Linked DNA regions of Homo sapiens: region 2 is linked to region 1. The links come from fine-mapping of genetic effects on gene expression. A gene starts in region 1. The other region holds a variant in brackets. All regions are shown on one strand. Distances are from middle to middle.

Region 1 (2,500 bases):
TTTGCCATGGGCATCGAGCAGATCTGGGTTTCAGGTCCACTTCACCACTTGCTGCTGGTGATCTGGGGCAAGGCCCTTGGCCTCTCTGAACCCCAGTTTAACGTCTACCTCTCAGCATTATTGTAGGGGTCGGAATAAATAACTGGAGGAGTAGGAACCGTACAACAAAGCCCCTGGGGACAGCGCAGGAGCCTTCGATTTGGAAAGTATTATTTTTCTGTTTCTGTGGAGAAAAAATGATCCCACCCCGTTCTCTTTATACTACATTTTCTTTTTCTCTTTCTCTTCTTTCTTTCTCTTTCTTTCCTTTCTCTCTTTCTTTCTTTCCTTTTTTTTTTTTTTTTTTTTTTTTTTTTTGACAGAGTCTTGCTCTGTCACCCAGGCTGGAGTGTGCAGTGGCACAATCTTGGCTCACTGGAACCTCTGCCTCCCAGGTTCAAGCAATTCTCCTGCCTCAGCCTCCCGAATAGCTGGGATTACAGGCTCCCGCCACCACGCCCAGCTAATTTTTGTATTTTTGATAGAGACGGGGTTTTACCATGTTGGTCAGGCTGGTCTCGAACTCCTGACCTCAGGTGATCTGCCCACCTCCGCCTCCCAAAGTGCTGGGATTACAGGCGTGAGCCACCTCGCTGGGCCCACTTTCTCTGTTGATTATGCTTATTGTTTATTGTCTGTTTCTTCCACTAGAATGTAAGCTCCATGGAGGTGCGGATCTTTGTTTTGGCCACTGTAGTGTCCTGATGGGTCAGAACAGTGCCTGACATCTAGTGGATGCGCCTTAAAAGATGCATTGAAGTATCTGTTCAATGAATGAATGAATAACAGTATTAACCTGCACAGCAGTGTTAGGCAGAGACTCTTCTCAGCCAGAGGGGAGACGTACAGAGGGAGGTCACACCCAGGGGAAACCACACCCCACGCCTCTGCCTGCAGCGACTCTTAACACACCTGGCCTGGGGATTCTCAAATCTGTTCACGCTCTGTTAGACTAGGAGCGCCAACAGCTCAGGGACTTCATCCTTAGTACCTGGCCCCTTTGGGGATCGGGATGGTTTCTGCGGGAAAGGCCCTGGGGAAGGTTAGCTTCTTGCTCAAACTAACGGTGAAGAATGCCCAGAATTACTAACCCATTTTACAGATATGGCAACTGAGGCCCAGAGGGGTGTCAGGCGATTTGTCCAATATTTCCCAACTCCTGGCTCCCCTGAAAGCCCGGTGACCCCGTTGTGAGTGGGCAGGCACCCATTAGAGAGCAGCCCCTGGATAAGGGCAGGTCACAGCCCCCTGCTCCCAGTTCCGCCTGCGCCGCCGCCACGTGTGGGTTGGGAGGGGCATCTGAGGGTGTGGGGGCTGCCACAGCCCGGGAGGTGACCCCTCGCAGCTGGGGCGCTCTGATCTTCGGCCCACAGGCCCGGGGTGCCGGGACCCCGCCCTCCTGCAGGGCCAGGGCTCGGCTCTCCCCGCCCACCGCGAGGCGGGGCGCACGCTCCGCGGCGCGGGGACCGCGCGCTCCAGGCTGCACCCGGCCTCTCCTCCGCGCGTGCGGGCCCCTCGCGGCGCCTCCCGGGCTCGGGAGACCCGGTCCCGCCGCCCGCCCGGCCCGCGGCCGCCTCTTCCTCTCGCAGCCCCGCGGCGCTTGCCGCAGTCGCAGGCGGCGGAGCAGCCAGAGCGCCCCAGGTACCAGTGCGGGCGGGAGACGGAGGCGACCCTGCTGCCGGGTGGGGAGGGGGCGCCGCGCGGCCGCTGCCCTCCTCTTCCCGCGGGGCCTGGCGGCCCCGGCGAACCCCCGCGCCGCACAGGCCGTGTGCGCCGGATCCCGGTGCCTCCGCGCCAGCTGAGACCTGCCTTTCCCAGGGGCGGCTTTGCTCCGGCCCCTAGGCCCCCGCCCTGGTACCCCACACGCCCACCGGCCGCGGGGAGCCTGCTCCGGCCCGAGAGCGCCCATTCACCCCCCTCACCCACCTCCCCGCGTTCCCACTTCCCCGCACTCTGACCCGGCCGGACGCCCCTCCCCTATCTTGCCGCCCGCCCCCTCCAGGGGGCTCTGCTCCCACCCCAGGGAGCCCATCCGACCTCTGCTTGACTTCCCGCCGCTTCCTTCAGGGGCCTCGGCTCATCGGGTGCCCCTCCCCAAACTTCCAACCCGTTTGCTCCAGGAGTTCCTGCCCCATCCCCGAGGGCGCCCAAATAGCCACACTGTGTCCTCCTGTAGTCGCTGCCCCCTGACCTAGCGCGACCCAGCGCCCCCGCCCATGTCCCCCCACTCACCTCCCCCGGGGGGCGTGGTGAGTCGCGGTCTGTTCTCACGGACGGTCCCCGTCCAGCCTGCGCTTCGCCGGGGCCCTCATCTGCTTTCCCGCCACCCTATCACTCCCTTGCCGTCCACCCTCGGTCCTCATGGTCCCAGAGCCGGGCCCAACCGCCAATAGCACCCCGGCCTGGGGGGCAGGGCCGCCGTCGGCCCCGGGGGGCAGCGGCTGGGTGGCGGCCGCGCTGT
Region 2 (3,012 bases), 23 kb after region 1:
TTTTAAACAGATTCCAGGGAAAATACACACACGTGTATTCACACATCTAAGTGGTTTTCAGGGCCCTGGGCTCAGGGTGGTTGTCAAGGCACAGCCAGTGCCCCTCTGCAGCAGGACACATATTTAGTGGCTGCAGGGCCTGAGAAGGAACCTAAGTTTGGACTCTCTGAAAAGCTGGGGTACCAGCCTTGGCTCTGTCTCTTACCAGTAACTGGGCCAGTCCTCACAATTTCCTGAACCACAGCTTCCCCATCTGTAAAATGAGAGTCATGACCTTGAATGATTGCTATAAGGAGTTCAAGGGCCTGGCACTTCATAGGAACTCAGAGAATGCTAGCTTTTGATATTATGTTCCTATATGATCCAAAACACTTTTTGTTTTTCTTAATTTTTTTTTTTTTTGAGACGGAGTCTTGCTCTGTTGCCCAGGCTGGAGTGCAATGGCATGATCTTGGATTACTGCAACCTCTGCCTTCCAGGTGCAAGCTATTTTCGTGCCTCAGCCTCCCAAGTAGCTGGGATTACAGATGTGCACCACCACACCTGGCTAATTTTTGTATTTTTAGTAGAGACAGTATTTCACCATGTTGGCCGGGCTGGTCTCGGACTCCCAACCTCAGGTGATCCGCCTTCCTTGGCCTCCCAAAGTGCTTGGGATTACAGGCGTGAGCCACTGCACCTGGCCTTTTAAATTTTAAATGTAGAGATGGGGACTTCTTATGTTCTCCAGGCTGGTCTCAAACTCCTGGGCTCAAGAGATCCTCCTGCTTCAGCGTCCTAAATTGCTGAGACTATAGGCATGAGCCACGATGCCCTGCCCCAAACACTTTTAAAGAGACATCATGCAATTTGAGTTAGTGATACCTACCTAAAGGAGTTGCTGGGAAGAAATAATACAAACCATGAAGCACAGTGCCTGGCACCCCAGGAGGTACTCTGTAAATATGAGTTCCCTTACCTTAGTTTCCTACGAGTGGGGGATGGAGAGTAGGGAGTTAGCTGGGCTGATCCATTTGGGAGCCCAAGATGGCTGCTCAAGCTCCAGCCATCACATCTGAATTCCAGCCAGCAGAAACTTCAGACCCACAGGGACAAGTGATAACTGCCTCTCTAAGGACAAACAAGAACTGCCTCCCTATACCTTTTTAATGTTGTAGATGGCTGGTGCCAGTGCTGGGTAGAAACAGGCCAGGAAGGAAGGGAGGTGTTGGTACCCACTGGCTGCAGCTGATACCAGATGGAAATTCCACTGAGAGCTGTCCTAGAACACACAGCTCTGGCCCTCCTCGACTACAAGTTGGTCTGGGTCTCAGGCAACCCTAGTCCCTGAGCCACCCCTCTGCAAAGACCCAGGGGAGCAGTTGCTGGGCAGAGCTCTGGTTTTACAGTTAGCTGGAGAGATGAGAGAAGAGGGGTGAGGCAGGTCGGGAAAGAGCCTCTTCTCAGCACCAGAAAGTTCTGGTGTAGCCGATACTGCGTGAAGATTCAGCCCCTGACCATCTCCCAGGCTGTCTTGATTGAATCTGCCAGCTGCCTGGATACACGCCGGATGTGACTGGCGTGCAGAAGCCTTCCGTGGCTTCCCGTGTTGGCAGGGGCCTCTGTGGACACCCTGTGATGGCACTCATAACCTGTCATCGTCACATGCTCATGAGGTTGCGTTCCCTGATAAACTGAGCGCAGGGGAGCAGAGACCACTTCTCACTCACCTCTGTGCCCCACAGCCAGCCCCGCACATCGTGGGGTTTCCGTGGGAACCAGATCCC[T/C]GCAGGTACAAATGGGGCCCAGCCCTTCCTGTTTCCTGCCTCAAAAGACACCCCAACTTACCCAAACAGAGGCTGCCATCACCCACCTCCATCTGCCCCAGTGACTCCTTCCAAGCCCATCAGGCCCCTTTGGGTTCTTTCACTTCTTGGACCTCAATTTCCTCATGTATAAAATGAGGCTAATAAAGAGACCTATACCACGTGGGCTGGCTGTGTGGCTTTGATAATACATGTAACAGGCTTATTGGCACAGGGTTAGAGGCCACTACCAGAAGCTACAGAGATGTGTGAATGCAGGCAGTACTGAAGCAGTGGTTAACAGCCCAGGTTCATCCGGCTCTACCACTCACATGCCGTGGCACCGCCTGCAGCCTCAGTTTTCACACCTGTACAACGGGTTACTACCACTATGCAGGACCTCTATGAGGATCAAATGACTTACCCCGTAAAACATGTGAGTTGTTGGCTACTGCGGTTATTATCAAGTATCTACTTTGTGCCAAGCCTTTTGCTAAGTTCTAGGCCACCTGGCATTTCTGCTGGGACATGGAGAATCTTGCCGTGGGTTGGATCTCTGTGCCCCAGAAGCCTCATGAGTTGGTCCCTGGGGTGGCAAATCCCCCACCCACTGTAACCTTGTCCCTGTGAGGAGAGACTGAGGGGCAGGAGGGCAGCTTCATTCACCCCAGAGATGCGCCCTGCCTGCAACAGGGCCAGCCCAGTGGGATGATCACAAAGGGCCCTGCTGCGTGGTTGGCCCAGCAGGGAGAAGACAGGTCCTGTGGGTCTCTGTTGGGAGCAGAGGGTGGCCAGCATTTCCCCAACAGCAGTAATGAAACCTCCCTTGCCAGCAACTTCTCCAGCAAAGCATTTTCAAGGAAAACAGGAGGCCAGCACAAAGGCAGTGCTAATTACCTCTAATTACCCAGAAGAGGAAAGCACTGTTTTTTGTGATGTACTCCTAATGTGATAAAGAGCTATTATTAGGCAGGAGCTGGGAAGCTGCCACGAAGACAGCCTGAGGAGGGAGCGGAGTCTCCAAAACTGCTGGTCCCAGAGGCAAACAAACTGGGGGTGGTGGCAGGGGCAGGCCGGGAGGGACTAGGATTAAAGGAGGGCCTACTATGCACCAAGCATCTTACATGCGCTGCCCTGGAAGTTAGGCGTTTCCACCATTTCCTAGATGAGGACACTGAGACACAGAGAGGTTAAGTAACTGGCCCAAGGTCACACAGCCAGTAAACCA

The links.
Region 2: its variant is fine-mapped to the expression of HTR6 in whole blood (INTERVAL, PIP 0.99).

Annotation. Positions count from the first base shown.
Region 1 is chr1:19,663,354-19,665,853 of GRCh38, forward strand. HTR6 (5-hydroxytryptamine receptor 6) reads left to right here and starts at 1,522. Exons shown (of 3, transcript NM_000871.3): 1 at 1,522-2,500. The coding sequence starts at 2,401. RefSeq lists a silencer at 1,336-1,565 and enhancers at 1,344-2,316, 2,317-2,500.
Region 2 is chr1:19,686,568-19,689,579 of GRCh38, forward strand. The region is part of intron 15 of TMCO4 (transmembrane and coiled-coil domains 4); the gene reads right to left. Among named protein-coding and RNA genes, the nearest start is that of HTR6, 23 kb to the left of the region's middle. RefSeq lists an enhancer at 2,481-2,995. The variant T/C (reference allele first, on the strand shown) is at 1,767.